Linked DNA regions of Homo sapiens: region 2 is linked to region 1. A link means that fine-mapping ties the variant in region 1 to the expression of a gene that starts in the linked region. Tissue or cell type: whole blood. Region 1 holds a variant in brackets; the other region holds the start of a gene. All regions are shown on one strand. Distances are from middle to middle.

Region 1 (8,108 bases):
TGCTTTTCAAGGGAATGCTTCCAGCTTTTGCCCATTCGGTAGGGTATTGGCCATGGGTTTGTCATATATGGCTCTTATTATTTTGAGGTGTTTCTTCAATACCTAGTTTATTGAGAGTTTTTAACATGAAGGAATGTTGAATTTTATCAAAGGTCTTTCTGCGTGTAGTTTTCGTCTTTAGTTCTGTTTATGTGTTGAATCACATTTATTGTTTTTTGTATGTTGGACCAACCTTGCATCCCAGGGATGAAGCCTACTTGATCGTTGTGGATAAGCTATTTGAAGTGCTGCTGAATTCAGTTTGCTAGTTTTTTTTGTTTTGTTTTGTTTTGTTTTGTTTTGTTTTGTTTTGGAGAAAGAGTCTTGCTCTGTCACCGAGGCTGGAGTGCAGTGATGCAATCTCAGCTCACTGCAGCCTCCACCTCCCAGGTTCAAGCGATTCTCCTGCTTCATCCTCCTGAGTAGCTGGGATGACAGACGTGCACCACCATGTATGACTAATTTTTTGCATTTTTAGTGGAGATGGGGTTTTGCCATGTTGGCCAGGCTGGTCTGGAACTCCTGACCTCAAGTGACCTGCCTGTCTTGGCATCCCAAAGTGCTGGGATTACAGGCATGAGCCACCATGCCCAGCCCAGTTTGCCAGTATTTTATTGAGGATTTTTGCATCGATGTTCATCAATGTTTCCTTTTTTGTTGTGTCTCTGCCAGGTTTTGGTATCAGGATGATGCTGGCCTCATAGAATGAGTTAGGGAGGAGTCCCTCCTTTTCAATTTTTTGGAATTGTTTCAGTAGAAATGGTACCAGCTCTTCTTTGTTCCTCTGGGAGAATTCAGCTGTGAATCCATCTGGTCCTGGGCTTTTTTGGGTTCGTAGGCTATTTATTACTGCCTTAATTTCACAACTTGTTATTGGTCTATTCAGGGATTCAATTTCTTCCTGGTTCAGTCATGGGAGGGTGTATGTGTCCAGGAATTTATCCATTTCATCTAGACCTCCTAGTTTATGTGCATAGAGGTGTTTATAGTATTCTCTGATGGTTGTTTGTATTTCTGTGGGGTCAGTGATATCCCCCTTATCTTTTCTGATTGTGTTTATTTGATTCTTCTCTCTTTTCTTCTTTATTAATCTAGCTAGTGGTGTTATTAATTTTTTCAAAAACCAGCTCCTGGATTTATTGATTTTTTTTTTAGAAGGTTTTTTATGTCTCTATCTCCTTCAGTTCAGCTCTGATCTTGGTTATTTCTTGTCTTCTGCTAGCTTTGGGGTTTCTTTGCTCTTGGTTCTCTAGTTCTTTTAGTTGAGATGTTAGGTTGTTAACTTGAGATCTTTCTAGCTTTTTGATGTGGGCATTTAGCACTAAACATTTCCCTCTTAACACTCTTTTAGCTGCATCCCAGAGATTCTGGTACATCATCTCTTTGTTCTCATTAGTTTCAAAAAATTTATTGATTTCTGCCTAATTTTATTATTTACCCAAGAGTCATTCAGGAGCAGGTGTTCAATTTCCATGTAGTTGTGTGGTTTGAAGTGAATTTCTTAATTTTGAGTGCTAATTTGATTGCGTTATGGTGTGAGAGACTGTTATGACTTCAGTTCTCTTGCATTTGCTGAGAAGTGTTTTACTTCCAATTGTGTGATCAATTTTAGAGTAACTGCCATGTGGCACTGAGAAGAATGTATATTCTATTGTTTTTGGGTGGAGAGTTTTGTAGATATCTATCAGGTCCTTTAGATCCAGAGCTGAGTTCAGGTCCTGAATACCTTTGTTAATTTTCTCTCTCAATGATCTGTCTAATATTGTCAGTGGGGTGTTAAAGTCTCCCATTACTATCGCATGGAGTTTAAGTCTCTTTGTACGTCTCTAAGAACTTGCTTTATGAATCTGAGTGCTCCTGTATTGGGTGCATATATATTTAGGATAGTCAGCTCTTCTAGTTGCATTGAACCCTTTACCATTATGTAATGCTCTTCTTTGTCTTTTTTGACATTTACTGGTTTAAAGTCTGTTTAGTCAGAAACTAGGATTGCGACCCTTGCCTTTTTCTGTTTTCTATTTGCTTGGTAAATTTTCCTCCATCCCTTTATTTTGAGCCTATGTATGTCTTTGCACATGAGATGGATCTCTTGAAGAAAGCATACCAATGGATCTTGCTCTTTATACAGCTTGCCATTCTGTGTCTTTTAATTGGGGCCATTTAGCCCATTTACATTTAAGATTAGTATTGTTACATGTGAATTTGATCCTGTCATCACGATGCTAGCTGGTTATTTTGCAGCCTTGTTTATCTGGTTGCTTTATAGTGTCACTGGTCTGTGTATTTCAGTGTGTTTTTGTAGTGGCTCGTAATGGTTTTTGCTTTCCATATTTAGGGCTTCCTTTAGGAGCTCTTGGAAGGTAGGCCTGGTGGTGACAAATTCCCTCAGCATTTGCTTGTCTAAAAAGGATCTTATTTCTCCTTCACTTATGAGGCTTACTTTGGTTGGATATGAAATTCTGGGTTGGAAATTCTTTTCTTTAAGAATATTGAATATTGGCCCCCAATCTCTTCTGGCTTGTAGGGTTTCTGCTGAGAGGTCAGCTGTTAGTCTGTTAGTCTGGTCACCTTTGTAAGTGATCTGGCTTTCTTTTTTTTTTTGAGATGGAGTCTGGCTCTGTTGCCCAGGCTAGAATACAGTGGTGCAATCTCGGCTCACTGCAAGCTCCATCTCCTGGGTTCACACCATTCTCCTGCCTCAGCCTCCCAAGTAGCTGGGACTACAGGTGCCCGCCACCACACCCAGCTAATTTTTTGTATTTTTAGTAGAGACAGGGTTTCACCATGTTAGCCAGGATGGTCTCGATCTCCTGACCTCGTGATCCACCCGCCTTGGCCTCCCAAAGTGCTGGGATTACAGGCTTGAGCCACCGCGCCCAGCCATGATCTGGCCTTTCTCCTGGCTGCTCTTAACATTTTTTCTTTAATTTCAACCTTGGAGAATCTGATGATTATGTATCTTGGGGTTGATGGTCTCATGGAGTATTTTACTGGGGCTCTCTGCATTTACTGAATTTGAATGTTGGCCTGTCTTGCCAGGTTGGAGAAGTTCTCCTGGTTGATATCCTGAAGTTGGTTTTCTAACTTGGTTCCATTCTCCCCATCTCTTTCAGGTACCCCAATCATTTATACGTTTGGTCTCTTTACATAATCCTATATTTCTCAGAGGTTTTGTTCATTCCTTTTCATGCTATTCTGCTATTGATACTTGTGGTTGCATTGTGAAGTTCTTATGTTGTGTTTTTCAGCTTCATAAGATCAGTTATGATCCTCTCTAAACTGGCTATTCTGGCTATCAGCTTCTGTATTGTTTTATCACGATCTTAGTTTCTTTGCATTGGTTACAACATGCTCCTTTAGCTCAGCAAAGTTCATTATTACCCTCCTTCTGAAGCCTACTTTTGTCAATTCAGTTATCTCAGCCTCAGCCCAGTTCTGTGCCCTTGCTGGAGGGTGTTGTAGTCATTTGGAGGAGAGGCATTCTGGCTTTTTGAGTTTTCAGTGTTTTTGCATTGATTCTTTCTCATCTTTGTGGGCTTATCTGCCTTCGATCTTTGAGGTTGCTGGCCTTTGAATGGGGTTTTTGTGGAGTCTTTTTTGTTGATGTTGTTGTTGTTTTCTGTTTGTTTGTTTGTTTTACTTTTAATAACCAGGCCACTCTACCAAAGGGCTGCTGTGGTTTACTGGGGGTCTGCTCGAGACCCTAGTTGCCTCAGTTTTTCCCATACCTGGAAGTATCACCAGTGAAGGATACAAAACAGCAAAGATGGCAACCAGCTCCTTCCTCTGGAAGCTCCATCCCAGGGGAGTACTGACCTGTTGCCTGCCCCAACATACCTGTAAGAGGTGGCTGGAGACCCCTGTTGAGAGGTCTCACCCAGTCAAGAGGAACGGGATCAGGGACCCGCTTAAAGAAGCAGTCTGGGCCGGGCACGGTGGCTCACGCCTGTAATCCCAGCACTTCGGGAGGCTGAGGTGGG[C/T]GGATCACGAGGTCAGGAGATCGAGACCATCCTGGCCAATATGGTGAAACCCTGTCTCTACTAAAAATACAAAAATTAGCCCGGCATGGTGGTGCATGCCTGTAATCCCAGCTACTCAGGAGGCTGAGGCAGGAGAATCGCTTGAACCCAGAAGGTGGAGGTTGCAGTGAGCTGAAATTGCGCCACTGCACTCCAGCCTGGTGACAGAGCTAGACTCCATTTAAAAAAAAAAAAAAAAAAGAAGCAGTCTGGCTGCTTTTTGGTAGAGTAAGTGTACTGCATTGGGGGGACCCTTCCTCATCCAGATCATTTGTAGTCTTTTGGCCAGCAGGCTGGAACGGCTGAGTCAACCAAACCACAGAGATGGCAGCTGCCCCTCCCCATGGGAGCTCCATCCCAAAGAGGGATGAGAGTTCTATTTTAGAACCCTGGCTGGAGTGTCTGAAGCCCCTGGAGGGAGATCCCGCCCAATGAGGAGGAATGGATCAGAGTCCTGATTAAAGAAGCAGTCAGACCACAATCTAGCAAGGCCGCTGTGCTGCGTTGTGGAGGACCCTTCCTCGTTCGGACTATTTGTATTCTTCAAAGCCATTAGGCTGGAACAGCTGAGTCTGCTACTGAACTGCAGAGATGGCGGCCGCCCCTCCCTCTCTGGAACCCAGACCCATCTCAGGCAGATTCCAGCCTGTTGCCATTGGCTGGCTGGAATTCCAAGCCAGTGGGTCTTAACTTGTGGGGTACGATGGAAGTGGGACCCACAGAATGATGCTGATTGGCTTCCTGCATTCAGCCCCCTTCCCAAGGAGATGTAGGGAGGGATTTCCCACCTTGCCAGGGATCCCGGGGCTGGAGTATGTAAAACTCCCTAGTCTCTGTGTGTGCCTCAGCTGCTGCTCTGCCAAGATTCCACACAGCTCTCTGCTTTGGACCCAAGGCCCAGGTGGCATGGGCTCAGGAGGGGAACTCCTGATCCATGGGGTTGCAAAGATCTGTGAGAGAAGCGTGGTTTCCCAGGCAGGGTCGCACAATCACTCACTACTTCCCTTGGCTGGGGATGGGGGTTCCCTTGGCTCCCTGTAGCTCCCAGATGGGGTGTCGTCCCCTGCCCCCTGCTTTTCTTCATTCTCCGTGGGTAGAGTTATTTGCCTAGTTAGTCCCAATGCAAGAACCTGGATATTTAAGTTGAAGGTGCTGAATTCACTCGCGCCTTTACATTCCCTTCAGTGAGTGCTGTGGACTGCAGCTCCTTCTAATCGGCCATCTTGCAACAGCTTTCAAATCTTTCAGTCTTATATCCACATGTCATTTTCTTTTCCTTTTTTTTTTGTACAGAAGACTAGATAATATGCATGACATGGTTAAAATTTTCAATTGTGTCAAAAATATATGCAGTGAAAAGACAGTTTTCATCCTCCACTGCCTCCTGCCCCCAGCTTTCTTTCCTCTTAGACTACCACTGTTGACCAGTTTCTTGCATATCCTTTCAAAGACATTCCATGGGTTAAGAAAAATTATAAATGTATATATGTATGTATTGACTATATTGTAAGGTACGGACTTAAAACATTCCATATATGTTACCAAATTAATATCCATATATAGTTCATGTCAGTTGTGGCTCCCATAACAATTTGTCAGGACCACTGTTTCAACACGTCTCTATACAGTACATTATCAAATTTAATTTTTAATTTTCTATTCAGTTGTTGGTCTTTTTAAAAATTGTAGTGCATAGATATGTATACATGCATATATATATATATAAAATAATGAAAGTAGTCCAATATGAATAAATTACTTATCTTTTACCCCCTTTGTCTTTTGGCTTGTTTACTGTATTTTTGCAGTGAATTATTATTATTATTATTATTATTGCAACAGGGTCTCACTCTGTCACCCAGGCTGGAGTGTAGTGGCAGCCACAGCTCACTGCAGCCTCAACCTCAGGGGCTCAGGTGATCATCCCTCCTCAGCCTTCCAGGTAGCTGGGACTACAGGCATGTGCCACCATGCCAGGCTAATCTTTTGTAGAGACAAGGTTTTGCAGTGTTGCCCAGGTTGGTCTCAAACTCCTGGACTCAAGCAATTGGCCCACCTTGGCCTACCAAAGTGCTGGAATTACAGGCATGAGCCACCATGCCTGGCTGAATTATTTTTGATTTTCATATAGTCACATTACTTTTTCTAACTTTCTAGGGTTTTTTGTTGTTGCTTTTACTCTTTCCTAGAAAGGCTATCATATCCCCAAGATTTAAAAAAATTCTCCTATGGTAGCATCTAGTCTGCTTGATATCTATATGGTTATAGTATATAATATACTGTATGTATATGTGTATATATATGTGTATATATGTGTATATATATACACACACACCAATATACTATATAATGCAAATAATCTATTATAGAAATAATATCTGTTATGACAAAGAAATAAATTAGGGCCGGGCATGGTGGCAGCAGTTTGGGAGGCTAAGGTGGATGGATCACTTGAAGCCAGGAGTTCAAGACAGTGAAACAAAAACCACATGATTATCTCAATAAATGCAGAAAAGGCCTTTGACAAAATTCAACAACCTTCATGCTAAAAACTCTCAATAAACTAGGTATTGATGGGACGTATCTCAAAATAATGAGAGCTATCTATGACAAACCCACAGCCAATATCATACTGAATTGACAAAAACTGGAAGCATTCCCTTTGAAAACTGGCACAAGACAGGGATGCCCTCTCTCACCACTCCTATTCGACGTAGTGTTGGAAGTTCTGGCCAGGGCAATCAGGCAGGAGAAGGAAATAAAGGGCATTCAATTAGGAAAAGAGGAAGTCAAATTGTCCCTGTTTGCAGATGACATGATTGTATATCTAGAAAACCCTGTTGTCTCAGCCCAAAATCTCCTTAAGCTGATAAGCAACTTCAGCAAAGTCTCAGGATACAAAATCAATGTGCAAAAATCACAAGCATTCTTATACACCAATAACAGACAAACAGCCAATTCACGAGTGAAATCCCATTCACAATTGCTTCAAAGAGAATAAAATACCTAGGAATCCAACTTACAAGGGATGCAAAGGACCTCTTCAAGGAGAACTACAAACCACTGCTCAATGAAATAAAAAAGGATACAAACAAATGGAAGAACACTCCATGCTCATGGGTAGGAAGAATCAATATCATGAAAATGGCCATACTGCCCAAGGTAATTTATAGATTCAATGCCATCCTCATCAAGCTACCAATGACTTTCTTCACAGAATTGGAAAAAAGTACTTTAAAGTTCATATGGAACCAAAAAAGAGCCTGCATTGCCAAGTCAATCCTAAGCCAAAAGAACAAAGCTGGAGGCATCACGCTACCTGACTTCAAACTATACTACAAGGCTACAGTAACCAAAGCAGCATGGTACTGGTACCAAAACAGAGATACAGACCAATGGAACAGAACAGAGCCCTCAGAAATAATGCCACGTATCTACAACTATCTGATCTTTGACAAACCTGACAAAAACAAGTGATGGGGAAAGGATTCCCTATTTAATAAATGGTGCTGGGAAAACTGGCTAGCCATATGTAGAAAGCTGAAACTGGATCCCTTCCTTACACCTTATACAAAAATTAATTCAAGATGGATTAAAGACTTACATGTTAGACCTAAAACCATAAAAACCCTAGAAGAAAACCTAGGCAATACCATTCAGGACATAGGCATGGGCAAGGACTTCATGTCTAAAATACCAAAAGCAATGGCAACAAAAGCCAAAATTGACAAATGGGATCTAATTAAACTAAAGAGCTTCTGCACAGCAAAAGAAACTACCATCAGAGTGAACAGGCAACCTACAGAATGGGAGAAAATTTTTGCAACCTACTCATCTGACAAAGGGCTAATATCCAGAGTCTACAATGAACTCAAACAAATTTACAAGAAAAAAACAACCCCATCAAAAAGTGGGCAAAGGATATGAACAGACACTTCTCAAAAGAAGACATTTATGCAGCCAAAAAGCATGAAAAAATGCTCATCATCACTGGCCATCAGAGAAATGCAAATCAAAACCACAATGAGATACCACCTCACACCAGTTAGA
Region 2 (8,108 bases), 44 kb after region 1:
CAGAAAAGAAACTACTGTTGGCAAGGATGTGTAGAAATTGGAAACTTCGTACATTGTTGGCGGGAATGCAAAATGGTGCAGCCACTGTGGAAAACAGTACGGTGGTTCCTCAAAAAATTAAACATAGAGTTACTATATGGCCTAACAATTCTACTTCAGAATATATACCCAAAATAATTGAAAGCAGGCCCTTGAACAGATATTTGCATACCAACATTATTCACAATAGGCAAAAGATAGAAACAACCCAAATGTCCATCAATGGATGAATTGATAAACAAAATAGGACATATACCTATAATGATGCTACTCAGCCTTAAAAAGAAAAGAAATTCTGATACTTAAACGTGGGAGACATAAAGCCAAACACAGAAGGACAAATATTACATAATTTCACTTACACGTGATACCTAGAGCAGTCAAATTCACAGATACAGAAAACAGAATGGTGATTTCCAGGGGCTGGGGTAAGGGGAGAATGGGGAGTTAGTGTTTAATGGGTACAGAATTTTTGTTAGGAATGATGAAAATGTTCTGCAGGTGGATTGTGGTGATGATTGCACAAAAATGTGAATGTACTTACTGTAACTGAACTGTACACTTAAAATAGTTAAGATGGTAAATTTTATATATATTTTACCACAATTAAATTTTAAAAAATGAAATGATGTAATCTTCAAGGTTGAAGATTTATTGCCCTAATAGCAATAGGATGTGGGGAAGGGTGATGGGCTTCTCTTGCCTCCCTCCCTCTCATTGACATCATCTCCTACAACTTTATGACTGGTTTTTGTCTCATATCTGTCCCTGCCCACCACCACCAGATACCCACATTGCTACCTCATTCCTTCATTGTCTTTTGGCTTCCATAGTTTCTGATAAGAAATTTGCTGTAATTCTTATCTATTTTTTCCCCTCTGTATGTTTCCCAGCCCCTTCCTGCTCTTCACTTCTTCACATCTCTGTTCAATGGTCTTTCCTCAAACAGCTCTTAAACTAACCATTCTACTTAAAATGGCCATATTTTTTTTCTGCCTGCTTTTAAGACTTTTCTCTTTATCACTGGTAATAGCCAGCCATGAATTTATAATAGATGGCACCAGTGGTAGGAAGTGAGACGAGAGAAGTTCATCAACCCTTCCTTACATCCCATTGCTATCCTGGTAATAAAGGTTCATCCTCAAGGAGTATTTCTGACTGCTCAAGGACACCACGTGGACCAGAAGAGCCTGTTTTTCAAACCTATGAGATTGTGTAAACTTTCTCTCATCATACACCGGAAGGCCAATTCAGGGAAAGAAGCAGTGGAGGGTATGGGGATGCTATCCTAGAGAGAGATTTTTTTTTTTCTAAAAGACACATGTTTCTTGCAGGCGTCATTTAAATTATGTAATCAAATAAAGCTTTAAACCAGAGTTGGCAGCCCTAAATGGATGTACACCTAATACACAACTTCAAAATACATGGAGCAATGTGAATAGTGATCCTGGAGTTGTGCACTGTAGTGGCTCTGCTTATTAGCCCCTTCCCACTCTTCACTTCTTCACATTATTCACATCTCTGTTCAGTGCTGTTTCCTCAAACAGCTCTTAAACTAACCATCCTACTTAAAATAGCCATTTCCCCAACCATCCCATGACTCTGCTTTATTTTCCTTTGTAGCATTTATTCACAACATACCATTTTATTATTTATTGGTTACTTTTCTGTTGTCAGTCTCCTTCACTACAGTATAAACACCATGGGTGCATCTTCACTGTCTTATTCATATCATATACCCAGTTCCATGATCAGAGCCTAGAACATTCATAGTAGATGCTAAATAATACTTGTTGAATGAATTTATTTATTTACTTATATCATTTAATATGAAGTATGTATTAGTCCATTCTCACATTGCTATAAAGAACTACCTGAGACTGAGTAATTTATAAAGAAAAGAGGTTTAATTGACTCACCGTTCCTCAGGCTGTACAGGAGGCATGGCTGGTGAGGCCTCAGGAAACTTACAATCAGGGCAAAGGGGAAGCAAGCACGTTTTCACATGGTAGCAAGAGGGAGAGAGAGCTAAGGGGGAAGGACACACACTTTTTTTACCATCAGACCTTGTGAGAACTCACTCACTATCACGAGAACAGCAAGGGGGAAATCTGCCCCCATGATCCAATCGCCTCCCACCAAGTCCCTCCCCCAACATTGGGAATTATAATTCAAAATGAGATTTGGGTGGGGACACAGAGCCAAACCATATCAAAGTATACAGCTAATATTTATAATTGTTATTTGAGTTTATCTTTTTCATTTTTATATTTTTTCCATTCATTCTGCAATTCCCTAACTTTGTGTCATGTATACAGTCAGCTTGAGAGGTGGGGGGGAGAGAAAAATGTATAAAGTAAGAGCTCCACAAAGAAATCCCTACTTCCTGTGGAATACAATTCGAAGTCCTTTGCAAGCAGATTGGACATTCTAAATCCAAGGGAGGCAATAAAGTTTTATTTTAATTTGTATTTATTGATGTATTTTTTTTTGAGTCGCAACCTCACTCTATTGCCCAGATTGGAGTGCAGTGGTGCGATCTTGGCTCACTGCAACCTCTGCCTCCCGGGTTCAAGTGATTCTCCTGCCTCAGCCTCCCGAGTAGCTGGGACTACAGGAGCCCGCCACCACGCCCAGCTAATTTTTGCATTTTTAGTAGAGACGGGGTTTCACCATACTGGCGAGGCTGGTCTAGAACTCCTGACCTTGTGATCCGCCCGTCTCGGCCTCCCAGAGTGGTGGGATTACAGGCGTGAGCCACCGCGCCCGGCCAAGTTTTATTTTTTTAAAGCACTCAAGAAGTTAGGTTTGTTTCTAGAAACGTGGAAGCATCCGTCTGCTTCCTTCCAGCGTCCCTTTGCTTCCTTCCAGCCTCCCAAGGAGCCCAATTCCTTAATTTTCCCTACAGAGAATAGCACCAGGTCCAAAGCAGCCTGAATCAAAGCTCCTCCTTTGGTAATTGACAGCTGAGGGAAATCCTACTGAGGCCCACCCCCACCCTCCTCCTTGCTAGGCTGACAGGCAAAACTCGGTGGCAGTGGCTTCCAGCTCAGCCAATAGACGAAGCGGGAGCAAGAGCCTGTGTAAACAAACCCAGAGTGCGGCGCCTTGGTCTCCTCCCCCACGAGTGGGCCGGGCGCATCCTTGGCCCAATGCCTATCCCAGGCTAGCGTAGCGTCCTTTCAGCCAATCAGAGCCGGCATCTCCCTCAAGGAGGTGTTCCACCACAGGAAAAAAAAAATGAAGGAAGAGAAAAGACAGACATTAAAACCAATCAGAAGCTGAAACTTCTGAGGGAGTGGGCGGGCACTGCTTCACATTTAGACCAATAAAAACCACATATGCCATTCTAGGTGACCGAACGGCATCTTCTTTGGCCCAATAGACGAATGGGGCGGTGCCCGGCAACCAATGGCTTGGGTTCGGGGGCGGGGCGAGGAGGCAGTGTGCAGTAAGAGATAACCTGGCAAGTGGTAGTGGCGCTTCTCGGGTGCTGTGCTTCACGTTTTGGTACTAAAGGCCGAGACTGTTGTGGCGACGGCGACCTCTACGGCAACGGCTTAAGCTCTCGGAGGAGTGGCAGAGTACGATCTGAAGGAGGGGCTTCTGGTTAGCCCAGGTGGGCTCGGGTGCCCGGGCTGCTGGGGAAAGGACTCGAGGGAAACGCCGTTCTCCCGGCTCTGGGGGCGCCCTGCGCCTCCCTTTCTGCCGCCGTCGGGGCTGTGAAGGGCGGCACGCGCCTGCCCGAGCTCCTGTAGGGAGGGAAAGCGCGCGGGGTCCCACGTCGCGGCCATCGGCGAAAAGGGGCGTCCGCTGGGGTCAGCCCCTGCCCCTCGGGAGCAATAGGGGGTTTTCGTCCCTTTCCCCCCCGCACAGGTGCTCTGTTTCCCCCCGACTCCCACCCAAGTTCCTGACTCCCCTCAGCGTCCTCCTAACACTCGAACCGAATTCTTGGCCTGAGTCCCATTTCTACCCAGGTGCAACAATGCTAGGCAAATTGACCCGCGCGGCATCCCCCGCCCCTCTCCCCGGGCTGGAGCGGGAGGGATTGCGCGTCGTGCCCTTCCCCTATTCGCGGCCCCTGCGCGTCCTCTGCCTTTTTATACTTGCTCCATCTCCCCCTTGACTCCAGCCCTCATTCTTCATGCCTCATTTGCCTGGGAGACGTTCGCCACTTCTCTTGTGCCTTGCGGTCCGTGAGTGAGCCCATCACCCCCTACCAACCCCTAAATTCCATTCTCATCTCTCCAGAAAACTAACATTTTCCACTTGCCTCTTCCAGGCAGCTGGAAGGTGAACTGAGAGAGGCAGAATACGCAGAACAGGGAGTTTGGCAAGGTTGGGAACTTTAATGTTTTGTTCCTGGTAGACTGTTTTTGCCTTCAAATGGCATTTGACCATTATACCCGCTCTAGAATCTTTGTCCTAATGCAGTTCTTTTGGTGGTAATTGCTGAAAATGCAGTTGAAAAGGGCTAACTAGAAGCAAGGGATTTAAATTTTGTTACTATTATTTTCAGTAAATTGAATTGGATTATACTTTAAACAGCTTAACTGGGGTTTCTGGGAGTTTGTAGTGTAAGGGCCTGGCTACCCTACTTTGTCATAAAATATAGAACATACTTAGTTGTACAGCACAGTGTGATTCGATCACACCCAACCTATGAAGGGATAATAACAGCATTGAATCTGTCCAAAAACAACATTCCCTGTTCCCTTTTCACCTTCATAGTATATTCGTTTGGTTTCTAGTAATGTCGGTTCTAGCCATATGTTTTTTGATAACAGTACAAACTATGCTGTGCCTAAGTAAAATTATGCCAACAATTTTATGGGGAAAAGCTAATGCACTGCTCTTAGCTTTGATTAAGATTTTAGACGTTTGAAAATATAAATTCAGATATTGGACAGTGAGGGTTTTATTTTGAAGGTTGGAGGAGATTGAAGTGTTGGGGTAAGACTGATAGGCTCCTCTGGCTACTTGTATATCGGGGTGGGGAGAATATACAGGTTTACAAAATCTTGTAAATTCTCACAGTGCTTAGTTTCCTGACTTTTCAAAAATTGGAATTGTTTTTCCTAGCTTTCAGTGGAGAAATGTAAGCTATGAGTTTAACATCATGTTCACTGTGTTTTGGCCAGGATTTTGCAAGCTTTTGTGGAAAAAATTATATTGCTTTCTTTATCCTGTTTGTAATGTATGTATCAGTATGCTTCCTTGTATTTTACTGTGGTAAAATTGTATCTTGTATATAAAGAAAAAAGTCTATTATAGTGAATTAAAAGAAATCTTTACTCTGAGGTGGCAGCCTTGTCTAATGGACCATATGTTTAAGCCTTGTTAATAAATCACACTAGAGCCTAGCACAGTGGTGTGTGCCTGTAATCCCAGCCACTTAGGAGGCTGAGGCAGGAGGATTGCTTGAACCTAGGAGTTTAAGACAAGCCTGGGCAACATAGTGAGACCCCATCTCAGTCAATCAACCAATCAATCAATTACACTAAAAAGAGTAAGATCTTAAAACTGTTCCAACAAATGTCTGGGTGTCTAAAACAAGGAAAAGAGTTTATGACAGAGTTACAGCAGTCATCAGAGAAAAATCCTGGACAAATTGCAAATCTGTAACAGTTGTGAATTGCTGTGACTGCAGCTGAAAACCAAAGTTATTTTTGTGCAGTCTTTTTTGGGAGTATTTGTGTTTAATAATAACTTGTTTGCAAATTTAGAGGACTCTAGCTATGATTTCTTCTTAGAGACCTTGAGGAGCTCACAGTTTAATGGAAGAGAGAACTAGAAACCAATAATTAAATGCAGAGAGTGAGGTTCTGCAGTAGAAGGTATATACAGGGTGCAGAGAAGCACGATGGCACTGTGTTCTGATCTCATCTCCTACTGCTCTAGACTTCCTGAAGTGCCATTTCCTGAACCTACCTGTTTTTTTCCACCATCTGGACCTCTCTCTGTATGCACCATTCTCTCTCCTTGCAAGCCTTTTCCACACCTTATGTGCTTGGTGAAATTCTGTTTCTTCAAAATCTTGAAGCCTGCCTCTGCCTCATCCAAATGTTTTGCCTACTTCTCTGTTATTTCTTTATAAATAATTATAGTCAATTCTCATTATTTGCAGTAGTTATATTCTATAAAGTTGCCAAGAACACTGAATTATCAAATATTCAACCCTTGTTCCCAGGGAAAATATATACATATATACATATCTCACACAGATTACAAAATTAATTCCTAAAAACAACTCATCCTGGTAGATTGAATTTTCCTTACTTACAAAAAATAAAGGAAGTACAGAAGTGTTAAGCGATTTGCCTGAGGCCTCTCTACTAACAGGTGCCAGAGTTAAGATTCAGACTCGTCCAGATGGCCCCAGAGCCAGAGCTTCTTGCACTACGCTGCACTGCCCTCTGCTGTCTCTGTCCTCTGGTCATCTTTGTATGAGGGCTGAGACAAGGCTGAGGGTCACCTTGGGACTTGGGCAAGGAGTGACATATTTTTCACTACTATGTGTATATCCATAAGTCACCTTGAAAGCTCCACAAGTATTTGGGGATTACAAAGACATTTTAGCAAGTAAGCAAATTTGCAAATATGGGATCCACAAATAATGAAGATGAACTGTATTTGTAAGTGACTGCTAGGGTCTGTTTCATGGTAACCCCTTTCCCCAACAATGTGGACTATTTCTTTAGCTTATTTGATAGTTTGTACATTTATTCATAAATTTATTCAGTTATCATATATTCATTCATTCAGTTTGTTCATTTATCATATATTAAGCACTTACCATAAGTCAGACTCGGCTGAGCGTGGTGGTTCATGCCTGTAATCCCAGCACTTTGGGAGGCTGAGGCAGGTGGATCACGAGGTCAGGAGTTCAATACCAACCTGTCCAGGATGGTGGAACCCTGTCTCTACTAAAAATACAAAAAAATTAGCCAGGCATGGTGGCAGGAGCCTGTAGTCCCAGCTATTCAGGAGGCTGAGGCAGAGAATTTATTGAACCCAAGAGGTGGAGGTTGCAGTGAGCCGAATCGTGCCACTGCACTCCAGCCTGGGTGACAGAGTGAGACTCCATTTCAAAAAAAAAAAAAAAGTCTGTGTTTTTGTTTGTTTGTTTGTTTTTGAGATGGAGTTTCGCTCTTGTCACCCAGGCTGGAGTGCAATGGCACGATTTCAGCTCACTGCAACCTCTGCATCCTGGGTCAAGCAATCCTCCTGCCTCAGACTCCAAGTAGCTGGGATTATAGGCTCACACCACCACACCCAACGAATTTTTGTATTTTTAGTAGAAACAGGGTTTCACCATGTTGGCCAGGCTGGTCTCGATATTCTGACCTCAGGGAATCCACCCATCTTGGCCTCCCCGAGTGCTGGGATTACAGGCGTGAGCCTCTGCATCCAGCCTCAAACTCTGCTTTAATCTGTGGTGAACAAGCTGGAGATTAAGGTCCTGCCCTGTGGATTTTATATTTGCCTAAGAAAGACAGATAAGAGCTAAGTCAGGAGCTCTGGGGAAAGGCCCAGGTTGGAATTATAGATTCACTTGACCAAGGTAAACCTGGTGTGCCTGCTCCTACTTCACATCCCCAGACATACTTCCAGAACATTTCCTTTTGTATTTTTGTGTACAAACTTCCTTTTGAGCCTCTCTCCATTGTCACATGTCAACCTCTACTTGTCTTTTGTTGATTTTGAGGCCACTTGCCCATGTAAGTGGCAGGATATTATAGAAGAATCATGCTGACCTGGGTCTTTGAATTCTGGTTCTGCTACCTACCAACTGAGTTCCTTTGGTCAAGCTCTTGGACTTCTGAGCCTGTTTCCTAATTCCAAAAGTGGTATATGATGTGTTAGTCCCTGGTGGGTTGCAAGAAAGAGGCACACACATATCAGCTTTGGTGATGAGGGCTGAATGTAAACTTGGATGGAAAGTCATCTAAGCAGCCATATTGTCTCTTGGCCCTAGTACTTTCAAAACTTCACAGAACATTAATTTAGCAGTATTTAGTATTTGAGCTCTGAAGACCTGCCCTCTTTTGCTTTGTTCACTCAACATT

The links. PIP is the estimated chance that this variant, and not a neighbour inherited with it, causes the effect.
Region 2: PAIP2B starts here. The variant in region 1 is fine-mapped to the expression of PAIP2B in whole blood (TOPMed, PIP above 0.99).

What each region holds. Positions count from the first base shown.
Region 1 is chr2:71,266,206-71,274,313 of GRCh38, reverse strand. All of the region lies in intron 2 of LOC105374797 (a long non-coding RNA gene), which reads left to right. Among named protein-coding and RNA genes, the nearest start is that of PAIP2B, 43 kb to the right of the region's middle. The variant C/T (reference allele first, on the strand shown) is at 4,020.
Region 2 is chr2:71,222,478-71,230,585 of GRCh38, reverse strand. It overlaps PAIP2B (poly(A) binding protein interacting protein 2B), which reads left to right and starts at 3,483. Exons shown (of 4, transcript NM_020459.1): 1 at 3,483-3,658. RefSeq lists enhancers at 3,198-3,337, 3,553-4,053.